2 separate regions of the Homo sapiens genome follow, and region 2 is linked to region 1. The links come from fine-mapping of genetic effects on gene expression. A gene starts in region 1. The other region holds a variant in brackets. All regions are shown on one strand. Distances are between the middles of the regions.

Region 1 (2,915 bases):
TTGGAATACAAAAAGATATCATAAAGACCAGGCACAGTGGCTCACACCTGTAATCCCAGCACTTTGGGAGGCCAAGGCTGGAGGACTGCTTGAGCTCAGCTATTTGAGACCAGCCTGGGCAACACAAAGACCCTGTCTCTATTTTTCTATTATTTTAATGAATTTAAAAAAAAAAGTCCAGGCGCAGTGGCTCACCCCTGTAATCCCAGCACTTCGACGGGCAGATCACCTTAGTTAAGTGAGAGATGGCGAAACCCCATCTCTAGTAAAAATACAAAAAATTAGCCAGGCATGGTGGCAGGCACCTGTAATCCCAGCTACTCGGGAGGCTGAGGCAGGAGAATCGCTTGAACCTGGGAGGTGGAGGTTGCAGTGAGCAGAGATTGTGCCATTGCATTCCAGCCTGGGCAACAGTACAACCTGTGTCTCAAAAAAAAAAAAAAATATATATATATATATATAGATACACACACACACACACACATATATATACGTGCATAGTTATACGAGGAATTTTTCAGCGGTAAACGTGAATCAACTAGAAATATATGTACCAACATGAATAATTCTTAAACACAATGTTGATCAATAAAAGCAAGATATGGCCAGGTGTGGTGGCTCGTGCCTATCATCTCAGAACTTTGGGAGGCCAAGGTGGGCAGATTACTTGAGGTTGGGAGTTCAAGACCAGCCAGGGCCAACATGGTGAAACCCCATTTCTACTAAAAATACAAAAATTCGCCAGATGTGGTGGCACGCACCTGTAGTCCCAGCTACTCAGGAGGCTGAGGAAGGAGAATCGCTTGAACCTGGGAGGCAGAGGTTGCGGTAAGCCAAGATCACGCCACTGCACGCCAGCCTGGGTAACAGAGCGAGACTCCATCTCAAAAAACAAACAAACAAACAAAAAAGACCTTCAGAATGGTACAGTGTGACATCAATTTTTTAAAATTGAAACACAAATCAATACTCTGTGTGTTTATGGATACATATGTAGGTTTTACAAGTATGAAAACAAACATAGGTCTGAAAAACATAATCCTGAATTTTATTTTTACCTCCAACGAAAAAGGGAAAACATCTAAAAATTAAACCCAGTGTCTTTTGGAGGCATGATACTCTAGAGCTAAGTTGTAGATTTTTTTCGTTATTTTAAATGGTATTTTAAGATGCGCAAAAAGAAGTACAGGTGATGATACAACAGACTTAGCTGATATTTATGACTCAGCGGTACACCTAAAATATTACAGGTTTATTGGAAGCCCTAATCCGATTTTCCTTTCTCCTTGACCGGATGGATTATCCTGCCTCTGTGAAGTGTAACTTTAAAGAGAAGGCGAATGAGCTTCTAGAGAGCTACCAAGACAGTCACTACTTCATCATCAGTAAAAGCTGTTTACTTCCGATGTGTAATAAACCCACGTGACCATTTGGGGGCGCCAGAGTCCAGCACAGGCCGGCCGAGCCCGCGTTCTTCCCGGGGAATGCAACAGCTGATTCACCTGCTCCACGCTGATTAATAATCAAACTACCATTGTGTGGGGCCTATCTTCCTACTGGACCTCAAAACCCACCTACTCCACAAGTTTATCTTCACAATTATGAGCTACCTGCTTCACGTCACACTACAGCACCTAAAAGCAAATAATAAAGTTTATTCTTGAGTTAACCTGCCTCTGTGTTCAGCCAATCCCTCCTGCACGTGAGTGATGCACCTGGATGCTGCATAAGGAGAGATGGAAATACCTAAGGTGTGGTCCTTACTTCCAAGGGGCTTATAGCAGAACGAAGACTCGAAAGCAAGCACACCCACAACCACAACACAGCCGCTGGCACACACAGCAGGAAAGACACCGGGTTTAATGGAGCAGAGAAAGGGGGCGTCATCTCCAGGCACAGCTCCATGAAGAAGATGACATTGACCTGGGAGCTCTGAGCCTTCATATAATGAGTAAGCTTTCAGCTGGAAGAAATCCCAAGTGGAGAAACAGGAAGCTATAAAAGAGCAATGGTTTTGGATTCACAAAACCTGCCTGAGTGAACCTGGGTAAGTTGCTTCCCCTTCTTGATCTCAGGAAGGGTTTTGCAGAGCTGGCAGCCACAGGCACAGGTGAGCAGATGGCTTGAGCTCAGAAGTGCAAGACTAGCCTGGGCTACATGGCAAAACCTGGTCTCTACAATCTGTAGAAGTTTTCCTTTCTAGCTACAAATTAATAAATGTTAATTTGAAAATAAAAATTAGAAAATCTAAGAAAATATAAAGAAGAAAATTAAATTACACCTAGTTCTGAAGAGGCGCAGTGGCTCACGCCTGCAATCCCAGCACTTAGGGAGGCCAAAGCGGGAGGACCGATTGAGACCAGGAGTTCCAGACCAGCCTGGGTAACATAGTGAGACTCCCTCCTCTACAAAAAATTAAAAAATTAGTCAGGTGTGGTGGTATGTGCCTACAGTCCTAGCTACTGGGGAGGCTGAGGTGGGAGAATCGCTTGAGTCCAGGAGTTTGAGGTTATAATGAGCTATGATTATGCCACTGCACTCCAGCCTGGGCAACAGAGCACGATTGTGTCTCAAAAAAATATATATATATGCTTAATCTTTTCACTTAGAAATATTTTCTTCTTATTTTTTCTATCAGCTCCTCCAATTTAATGTACAAAATGAGACTATACTGAATATACCTTTTATATCCTGTTATTTAACTTAACATTATATTGTGACTACTTTCTCGAATCAATGCATATAATTTTGTCTGGTTTTGCTTTCTTTTTCATCAAAGATGTACATGCACATAATCTAAGAATCAGTAGTTCAAGTCCCTCTTCTATCCTGCTCCCCAGATCAAAACTTGAAATATTTTAGTCAATTCCTTTGGGATTTACTTCCATGTCTTAAAATAACACCGTATTCATATT
Region 2 (2,915 bases), 78 kb after region 1:
CGTGGGTGGGAAGAATTTCAGAGAGAAAGAGGGAGATTGAGCAGAAGAGGGAGGCTGCTTGCAGCCCTGAATAACATCTTTCTTTGCATATTTTCTTCCTCCAGAACAGTTTGGAGGCACAGTCCAGCTGCTGCCTTGGCTTTTGATCAGAATGATTACCCACAGGCCCATCCTTTCTTAGCACTGTTAGAGAACAGAGAGATGGCACTGGCTTCCAAAGTGTCCCGCGGGTGTCTTTTCTGCCTTTTTCTATCCTTCCATCCATTCCTGTGGGTTCTCGGGCAGCTGCTCATTTGAAAGAGAGGAGAGAGACATTTTTTTGTTTGTTTGTTTTGAGACGGAGTCTCGCTCTGTTGCCAGGCTGGAGTGCAGTGGCACGATCTCGGCTCACTGTAACCTCCGCTTCCCAGGTTCAAGCGATTCTCCTGCCTCAACCTCCCGAGTGGCTGGGACTACAGGCACATGCTACCACCATGCCCAGCTAATTTTTGTATTTTTAGTAGAGATAGGGTTTCACCACGTTCGCCAGGCTGGTCTCGATCTCCTGGCCTTGTGATCTGCCTGCCTTGGCCTCCCAAAGTGCTGGGATTACAGGTGTGAGCCACTGCGCCCAGCTGAGAGACATTTTTTAAGAGCAAAATCCATGCATGGCCAGGCCTCGGAATCTTTCTAAGGCCTCCTAGACTCTCAGGGGACCCACCATGGCAGTGGCACTGACATGCAGCCCAGGGTTGTGGTCCAAGGAGGGCTTATGAGCTGACTCAGAGGAAGTAAGCTTGTTCTTGGCTGCAGGGCAAGACTAGCCATGGAGGTGGGCTCTGGCCAGCTGGTCTGATATTCTTGCTGGTCCTGACTTTCATTTCCTCTGGAAATCCCGCACACTTGACCACAGAGGCTTTTGCAATATGTGTGTATCCTAATTCCCCTGGGGTTTTTCTCTTTTTGTTTTCTGAGGAGTGGGTCCACTTCAGTAAAATTACACACAAAGTTGGAGCTTTCTGTTCCAGGAAGGCAAAGGTTACAATTCTAGCAAGCCTAACACCCAAAAACACAAAACGCTGAAACCAGGAGAATGAGTTAGAAAATATGTATCCATGGCCAGGCGCAGTGGCACACGCCTGTAATCCCAGCACTTTGGGAGGCCAAGGCGGGTGGATCACGAGGTCAGGAGTTCAAGACCAGCCTGGCCAAGATGGTGAAACCCCGTCTCTACTAAAAATACAAAAAAATTATCCAGGCGTGGTGGCGCATGCCTGTAATCCCAGCTACTCCAGAGGCTGAGGCAGAGAATTGCTTAAACCTGGAGGGGCAGAGGTTGCAGTGAGCCGAGATCGTGCCACTGCACTCCAGCCTGGGCGACAGAG[C/T]GAGACTCCGTCTAAAAAAAAAAAAAAAAGAAAATTTGTACCCTGGCAGGTCACGGTGGCTCACACCTGTAATCCCAGCACTTTGGGAGGCTGAGGAGGGTGGATCACCTGAGGTCAGGAGTTCGAGACCAGCCTGGCCAACATGGTGAAACCCCGTCTCTACTAAAAATACAAAAATTAGCTGGGCGTGGTGGCAGGCACCTGTAATCACAGCTACGCAGGAGGCTGAGGCAGGAGAATAGCTTGAACCCGGAAGGTGGAGGTTGCAGTGAGCCGAAATTGCTCCACTGCACTCCAGCCTGGGCGACAAGAGCAAGACTCCATCCAAAAAAAAAAAAAAGAAGGCGAGGCGCAGTGGCTCGCGCCTGTAATCCCAGCACTTTGGGAGGCCGAGGCAGGTGGATCACCTGAGGTCAGGAGTTCGAGACCACCCTGGCCAACATGGTGAAACCCCATCTCTACTAAAAATACAAAAAATTAGCTGGGTAGGGTGGCAGGCACATGTAATCCCAGCTACTTGGGAGGCTGAGGCAAGAGAATTGCTTGATCCCGGGAAGCAGAGGTTGCAGTGAGCCAAGATCGCGCCACTGCACTCCAGCCTGTATGACAAGAGCGAGACTATCTCAAACAAAACAAAACAAAACAAAAAAAACAGAAACCTAGCTCCTTCAGCCTGTTCCCACCTGTGTCACTTACTTTTAAAGTTCTGCAAGCCATGTGGGCCCACCCACTTTTTCCAGCCTGGGGTTCCCTGGGTTCTAGCCCCATGCAGACAGAGAACTTCCGACGGACTTGTTCACAGGGGCTGGGAGTCTTCCGGTTTAAGTAAAGGATGGTGGCAGAGGTGCATCTTCTGCCCCAGAAACATCTCGGCTGAAGGAGACTCCATCTGCCTGGCCCAGCGTAGGGAGAATATCAGCCCATTGTTGGTGAAGGTGTTTCCAGGGACAGGGACAGTGGGCTGCCTCTTTCTCCAGCGATCTCCCCTCAGGGGCATATGTGAAGAGGAAAGCTGAAGAAAGAAAAGGCCAACTCGTCCTCTTGGCTCAACTTGTCTCTCCAAGTCATCTTCTTCCTCACTCCATCCAAACCCAAGTACCATCCACCCATCCAATAGATAATGACTGAACATCCCCAGGTGCCAGACACCCTTCTAGGTACTGGGATACGGCAGTGATGATGACAGTAAGGCCCAATGACTCTCAGAAAGTTCACACTATAGTCAGTGGAGGCTGGAAAGGGTCAGTATATTCCACGGAAATAGTGTTAACTACAAGAAAGCAAAACCAGTAATGGCATAGAGAGGGACTGAGTCTTGGGGAGATGAACTCCTTTGCGGAGGGGTCAGGGAAGGCTGCTAGGAGCTGACTCTCCAGCTGAGCCCTCCATTCTGAGAAGAGGCCAGCCCAGGAGAGATTAAGGGAAGAGCATCCGGGCAGAGAGAACAGCGAATATGGAAGTCCTGAGGGGCATCGAAAATGCCGGAATCTGGAGGTCCAGGGAGCACTCTGGAAAATCTCTTGGATTGTTATCCCTCTCATCTGGTTACTC

Alleles and levels. Alleles are on the strand shown, and positions count from the first base shown. SD is a standard deviation of normalised expression in the study named.
As copies of C replace T in region 2, the expression in monocytes after R848 of the gene that starts at base 1,339 in region 1 goes up (large effect, 0.84 SD a copy in Quach 2016).

Evidence for each region. PIP is the estimated chance that this variant, and not a neighbour inherited with it, causes the effect. A credible set is the group of variants that fine-mapping cannot tell apart.
Region 2: its variant is the best candidate, but not a certain one, in a credible set for the expression of LINC02733 in monocytes after R848 (Quach 2016, PIP 0.55).

The regions. Positions count from the first base shown.
Region 1 is chr11:62,080,746-62,083,660 of GRCh38, reverse strand. It overlaps LINC02733 (long intergenic non-protein coding RNA 2733), which reads left to right and starts at 1,339. Exons shown (of 3, transcript NR_183616.1): 1 at 1,339-2,047.
Region 2 is chr11:62,002,618-62,005,532 of GRCh38, reverse strand. No RefSeq gene overlaps it. Among named protein-coding and RNA genes, the nearest start is that of FTH1, 36 kb to the right of the region's middle. The variant C/T (reference allele first, on the strand shown) is at 1,365.